Linked DNA regions of Homo sapiens. The protein of the gene in region 1 interacts with the protein of each later gene in a pairwise test. Each region holds a gene or a part of one and is shown in the gene's direction. Other genes may lie near its edges.

What was found. Proteins that work in one complex are often made in the same cells at the same time.
Region 2: the proteins of TBPL1 (region 1) and IRAK4 interact in a two-hybrid assay, tested with the Homo sapiens proteins (one large-scale study listed by IntAct).

What each region holds. Positions count from the first base shown.
Region 1 is NC_000006.12:133,980,724-133,984,223, forward strand, and holds part of TBPL1 (TATA box-binding protein-like 1), read left to right. Parts: intron 1-1,844; coding exon 1,845-1,927; intron 1,928-2,093; coding exon 2,094-2,157; intron 2,158-3,500. UniProt on the Homo sapiens protein: Part of a specialized transcription system that mediates the transcription of most ribosomal proteins through the 5'-TCT-3' motif which is a core promoter element at these genes. Seems to also mediate the transcription of NF1. Does not bind the TATA box.
Region 2 is NC_000012.12:43,765,451-43,768,950, forward strand, and holds part of IRAK4 (interleukin-1 receptor-associated kinase 4), read left to right. Parts: intron 1-2,652; 5' UTR 2,653-2,661; coding exon 2,662-2,822; intron 2,823-3,500.

The sequences.
Region 1 (3,500 bases):
TTAGTTTTTGTTAAACCTGTAATATTTTAAAGCCTGAATATTAATAAGTAATAATAAAACCTTAGTGTTTTGAGATTAACATTATAAAAGACATTGGATGTCATTATAAACCAAAGATTGACGAGAGGAATATGTATTTTACACATTTGTTATGAAAATTAAGAATGTATCTCAAGGCTCTATTTAGCTTTAAAAATTAGATGCCAGGATACCTATGTAAATTGCCATTAATTAATTAATTTTTTTTTTTTTTTTTTTTTTTTGAGACGGAGTCTCACTCTTCCGCCAGGCTGGAGTGCAATGCAGTGGCATGATCACAGCTCACTGCAACCTCTGCCTCCCAGGTTCAAGCAATTCTCCTGTCTCAGCCTCCCAAGTAGCTAGGATTACAGGTGCACACCACCACGCTCAGCTAATTTTTGTATTTTTAGTAGAGACGGGGTTTCACCGTGTTGGCCAGGATGGTCTCAATCTCTTGACCTTGTGATCCACCCACCTCAGCCTTCCAAAGTACTGGGATTATAGGCGTGAGCCACCGTGCCTGGCCGTCATTAATTCTTAGTACTAGAAACTAAGTAAAGATGAATTAAATTCAATTAAAAATTTCAGTGACTCACAAAGATTTTCAAGTTTGTCAGCAATCCCATCCTTCCTTTAGAAAAGTAATAAATATGTCTGCTCAAAAGTTTAGAGAGGAATATGCCTAACACTGCTTTGGTACTTCAGCATGACATATGGAAAGGAAGTAGTTTTTTTAAGGCAGGTTAATTGAAAATTCTGAGTTGATAGACAAGCTGGTGATGGTGAGAGACAATTAAATGTAGGATAAACTCAGTCAAGTGTTTCTCAGTCACTTGTATATGAAATTTTATAATGTATTTTAGTTCAAATTTTATCTTGATCTTTGGTGAATTTTGAGTCTGCCCAGATTTAATAGCTTTCTAGTTTGATAATATGGCATATGACAGAGAATGAAGAACACAAAATGTAACAAAAATTTTAAGCAGAAACATCTGATTCATTTATGTTAGTCAGTGAGCATTTATGTCTTTCTTACATAGAATGAGCATCTAACAAATATTTCCATTAATGAAAAGTTGGAATGAAAATTTAAATTTGCATATTTTCTTGGAGCTTAGTCCTTGACCTATTTATACACACTCTGTAGTTATTTCATTGTAACCCATAGCTTTAAATGAATTTCCAATTACATCTCCAGCTCCAACATTTCTCCTTTATTCAAGATGCCGATGTTGAACTTGAGTATGTAATAAGCATCTCAACTCTAGGATGCAATATAAAGTAGTGATGGGTACCATGAAGCAGCAGAAAGCAGAATTAGGAATTAGAAAGCAATGAAGGGATGGGTGTTTCAGGGAAATGATTAGGGAGGGCCTCTCTTCAGGAGGTGACATCTGGTAAGAGACCTGAATGAAGTGAGAATATTGAGGGGATAATATTCCAAATGAAAGCAACAGCTACTGCAAAGCTTCTGAAGCATGAACAGATTTGGTGTGTGTGAAGAACCATGCAAGTTCCAGTTATATGACTGGGGTGGAATGAGAGTTGAATTGTTTATATACTTGGAGTACATTGATTTCAAGTATATAGAGTGAGAGATTTCTATACACCTTGTATTTTTAATTAATCAAATGTCTTTTTGGATTAATATGTTCTTTGTGTTTGGTATTGTACTTGATTTCAGAATGGTAGATTTGGAGAGCAGTTATTGCAGTCTTGGATAAGCTTGGAGAGTAGTATTTGGACATTAATATGACTATATAGAACAGAACCTTATGTGAAAAATAATGCTTATGAGGTAATCAGATTTTTTTTCCCCCCAGAAAGTATTAATGAAGCTTAGAAAACCTAGAATTACAGCTACAATTTGGTCCTCAGGAAAAATTATTTGCACTGGAGCAACAAGGTAAATGCTACTTGGGTTTTTTGTTTTTATTTTTTACTTTTTCCCTCATGGAAAGGACATTTTCCTAGACTTAACAGCAAAATCATATGTAAAGTTTGTTATGTTCCTCAGTATAACATTTATTTCCTGTGTAACTGATAATCTTTTTCTTTCCTTAAAACCGTAGTGAAGAAGAAGCTAAATTTGGTGCCAGACGCTTAGCCCGTAGTCTGCAGAAACTAGGTTTTCAGGTAACGTTTTCAAATAGTATCTAAACTACAAATATTCAAGGACTTATTTTTATAGAATTAAAAATTGTAATAGACTCAAGAAATCACTATGCGTACTATTCTTATGATTAAACTTTTTCTAGGTTTTTTAATACTGCCCTTCAGTGTGAAAATTAGTAGCAAAATTTGGCTATGTGGGTATTTGTAAAGGATCCTAGCTTTTTCCCTAATTCCTTTCCCATAAAGAGACTTGTTTCCTCACAAGTTAATTTCCTTTTCAACTCTTTTTTAAGTGTTTTCACCTCTGACGTACACAAACAAAATGGTTTTTGGTCATCTCAAGAATGCCAGGTCAGAATGGTGAATAGAGAATGGCAGAGGCCGTTGACATGGACACACCAGCTGGCAGGCTCTCACACTTGTAACGTGACTGTCACTGGCATGTCAGCCTCATCACTATAACTTGATAGAGGTATACCTTTGAATAAAACGATTACATATTATGGACTTGCTAGGTCACTTGCAAATGATGAATAAATGAAAGATAAAGATGAGAATGGTCCCTGAAGATGAGGGCAAGGCTGTTTGGGATTGAGACAAGTTTGTAGAAGTGGGGATAGGAAGTTACCTTTCCCTCTGATGACTCAGTCTCTCTGAAGTAGAGGGTGATAGGAAGAGACTGAACGGCTGGTGGGGAGTGGGGGTTGGTGCTTGAGAAGGGTGGCAGTAGAGAGAGGCTTGAGTTGTACTGTGATTTGAGAGTGCTGCCACTTTGCGGTTTCCTGGCTTTGCGCAACTGCTGTGTGCAAGGCTGAGTTGAAGGATAGTTCGCTCACCCAAAATTGTGGTTTTAGGAGGAATGTTTGAAAAGATAATGAGATGAAACGAAGATGTTGGTTGGAGTGGCCAAAGTTATTAATGTTAACAGCATTATTTTCAGCCTTGGAACTTCTTTTCTTAGTGTAACATTAGAAGTGTTGAGAGAAATCCCAATTAGTTAGAAACAAATTTATCACTCTATCCCCAGAAAGAAAATAAACATCTAGCTAATCTCACAGAAATGTCATTTTGCCTTATTGCATATGAGAAAAACATCTGACTTTTGGAGCCCAGTGTACACTCTGTATTTACTGACTTTAAAGTGACATCTTTTCCATTTTTACTCTAGCAGGATGACCTGGACTTAAATTTTTTTTCCCTCACTATTCTCTCTCCTTTCTCAGTAGTTTTAAATATTTCACTTAAAGTATTAAAAAATTAAACATATGATTAGAAAGACCCATACTGTTTTGATCATGCAAATACCTCAGTTTTTAATTTTTTTAATGGAGTTTTTGAGCTTTTTAAAAAACTGAATTAAAGCT
Region 2 (3,500 bases), on another chromosome or scaffold:
TTCTTCCAACCAACCTCCACCATAAATGTGGTGTTTGTTCTTGCTTTAGTTTTAGCAGAATTCATGTTGCTGTGGTAGAGGTTCTTTTCAAACTGTCTTATTCTTCTCAGTGTCTCAACTAGATCCTGTTTAGACATGAATGATAAGTTAGTATGAGTTTATTTTGGAAATACATTTTGCAAAAAAAAAAAAATTGAAATCCATGCATGGTTTTTGCACGATATGCATTTTCCATGAACTCTTTGAAAACCCCTTATATATGAGAATACTTACATAATGAGCATTCTTTGCTGAAACCTCTCTCCTAAGCTCCAGACCACATATATAAGTACTTGGTATGAAGGCTCCTAGATAGTGCCAAAGGTAGATATTTCACATTTAACATGAGCCAAAAAAAAAAAAAAAACTTCATTCTATCTCCCTTTCTTCTAATCGCTCATCTCTAGTGAAATTGTTTTGATTTGGCCTCCTAAATGTTTTGACGTTTTACCTCTCCATTCCCCTACCCTATACTTTTTCCAAGCTCTCCTTTCTGCTCACCTGGATTATTGCAGAAGTTTTCAAACTAATTTTCTTGCCTCAATATACATCCCTTTGATTTTTATCCAGAGGAATCCACTTAACCATATAAGATTATTTAACATCCCTCCTAAAAATCCTAAAGTGGCTCTCCTGTAACTTTTAGTTTATAAGTTCAAACTCTTTGTCTTAGCACATGAGGTACATGATGATCTGGCCCTGCTACCTTTCCACCCTCATCTCTTCTCACTTAATCACAGGCATCCTGTGGTCCAGCCATAGCAAGCTCTTTGCCTGAGACACACATGCTCTTACCTTTTCCCATGCTATTCCCTCTGCCTGGAATTTTCTTTTGGGCTTATCCTCATTCCCTTTCATTCATCCTTCCAACCTCCTACTCCAACCAAATCTGTCTTGATATCCCTATTCCAGACTGCCTCTGCTTGATGCCCCTTTTCTGGGCCCCATAACATTCTTGCAGCATTTATCACTCCCTGTCACTGTTTGTATCCCCTGGTATACTGAACAGCTTGGAAACAAAGATTTTCTCTTCTCTGTGCTCCCACTTGTTAGTACAAAGACTGACATAAATATTTTCTGAATGTATTCATGAATGAAAGGAAAGGAATGGTCTTTCTGAAATAGAGAATGGCATGAACAATGCATTGTGTTATAAAAGCAGAGTTGTATGGCATGACTTTTGGAGTCAGACATAATTGTAAGTCCTGGATCTCTCACTTACCACCTTTGTAAAATAGAGATGATAAAACTGTACTGGGAAATAATTTAGTTGTTCCAAAAGTAAATACTGAACAATACCATTATCTACAGTATGCAAGTCACTAGGTGTATATTCATGAATAAAATTAGCATGGTCCTGAACTCATGGATCTTAAAATCGAATATGGGAGACAGTAAACAGGTAAACAAATAAGTATATGATTACAAATACATTGTGCAGTGATGAAAGATAATTAGGTGAAGGGCAGCTAGACCTATTTAGATGTGGTCAAAGAAGTCCAAAGAGAAGAAGTGAATACTAACATAGAAGCCTCTGATACAGAGAAGCTTTTCGCTTTTTACTCTTTTTGATAGTTTTAGAATGTTGTTCCATATGAACACATTATTTACTCTAAAATTGTATTTTTAAAATATATATAGGGAAGCAAAAATAATTGACAGAAGAATATCTGAGTCTATTTGTCTTAATTGGAAGGAAAGATCATTTCCTATTGAGAATGAGGGACACGCAGAACAAATAAAATCCACATAGAAAGAAGTAAAGGTATGAAATAGTCACTAAGGACTATGAGAGAAGACAAGTGGAAGGATTAACGGCAGTGTTGAAGGCCCTGTGGAAAGGGGGTTACCATAAATTTGTATTCACATCAGCAACCCTGGTGTACAAGTAAAGTTGTTAGATTTATCCCTGGCTGCAGCTCTCCAGGATGGAGTAGCAGAAGTAAAGGGGGATTGCAGAAATAAAGATTCTGTCTAGAGAGTAGTTGAAGTGGTGAAGCACAGGTTTTGGCGTAGTAGCAAATGAATTGTGGTCAGGCAGATCTCATGGACTCAAAAAATGTGCAGAGGTCAAGGAAGAGCAAAGTATGTGAAAAGTGGGTGGGTGGACCATATCTGTTAATGCTACACAAATCATTTCAGTACGTTTTTTTTTTTTACTTCTACCAAAGAATGTTGCATAAATTTTAATTGTAAATAAGTACTAATTGAGAAACATAAATTGAAAGGTAAATGTTTTTATTAATAGATTTGATTTCTGAATATGCTAATTCTGATAGTTTGTTGATATTACTCTTAAGAATTTTTCTGGTAAGTTTTTTGCCCCTTTCTATAAATTTTACTAGGAAAATATCAGTGTCAGAAAAAAGTCCTCCGATTTTTATTGCTATTAATGGGTGGAAAAAGGAAGCAAACCCAGAGGATAATTGGACAAATGAATTACAATTTTAATTTCATCTTAGGATATCAATGACTTGACTTTGGAATGTTTCTTTATTATGGTATAATCAGTTGCTGACATTTCATATGATATAGCAAAGTGTGATATATAAGCTTACAGATGTCATCTCTAAAAGTACTGTAAAATTTTAATGAGATTTTTCCATATTTTAGGAATAGAAGATGAACAAACCCATAACACCATCAACATATGTGCGCTGCCTCAATGTTGGACTAATTAGGAAGCTGTCAGATTTTATTGATCCTCAAGAAGGATGGAAGAAGTTAGCTGTAGCTATTAAAAAACCATCTGGTGATGATAGATACAATCAGTTTCACATAAGGTAACAGATAAAATTCTTTGTATTTTTAAATTCTTACATCACAATATGGAATGATTAATTGGTATAAGTACTGTCTAATGTGGCAGTTTAGAAAGTAAACCTCTCCACTATGGAGGAGACATTGGTAGTAGGTAACCTCTTTTTGATTGTTCCTTTTGCAGTTTTGTCTTCTTTGTCCCATATGTCAATAGGGCTAATACTGTGATCTCTCAAATAAGTTTTTTGGGTTAGAATCAAGATTCCCACCTTTGCTGTGGTTCCCTGTTTGGCAAGCCAAGTGAAGTTCACTCTGCCTCACACTTCTCATTTCCAGATTGAAGGAAAATAAGAATGTTACAAGAATGTCTGGTAAAAATCTAGAGCTTAAATTTCAAAGTGTGTGAATCTCTAACACACTCTAACAATGTATTTTGGGACTTTTTCAATTTGACGTTTTAAAGTTGTTGCTTACAAGTGTACACTTCTGTGCACAGAATTCTTAAATCTTAGCTAGGATTTCTCAGTGCTGTCTTCAGATAATTTCAATTTTTCCTTTTTACTCATCTCTGCTCAATTTAGTGTAAAATATGCATGCATATTTTATTTTTGTCAGTCATTGCAGTTAAAACCTATGTCAAAATGTTTCTTTGGTAGCAAAAGGAAAAGAAGACTATTTGTTATTTTCAGCATTAATCTGGG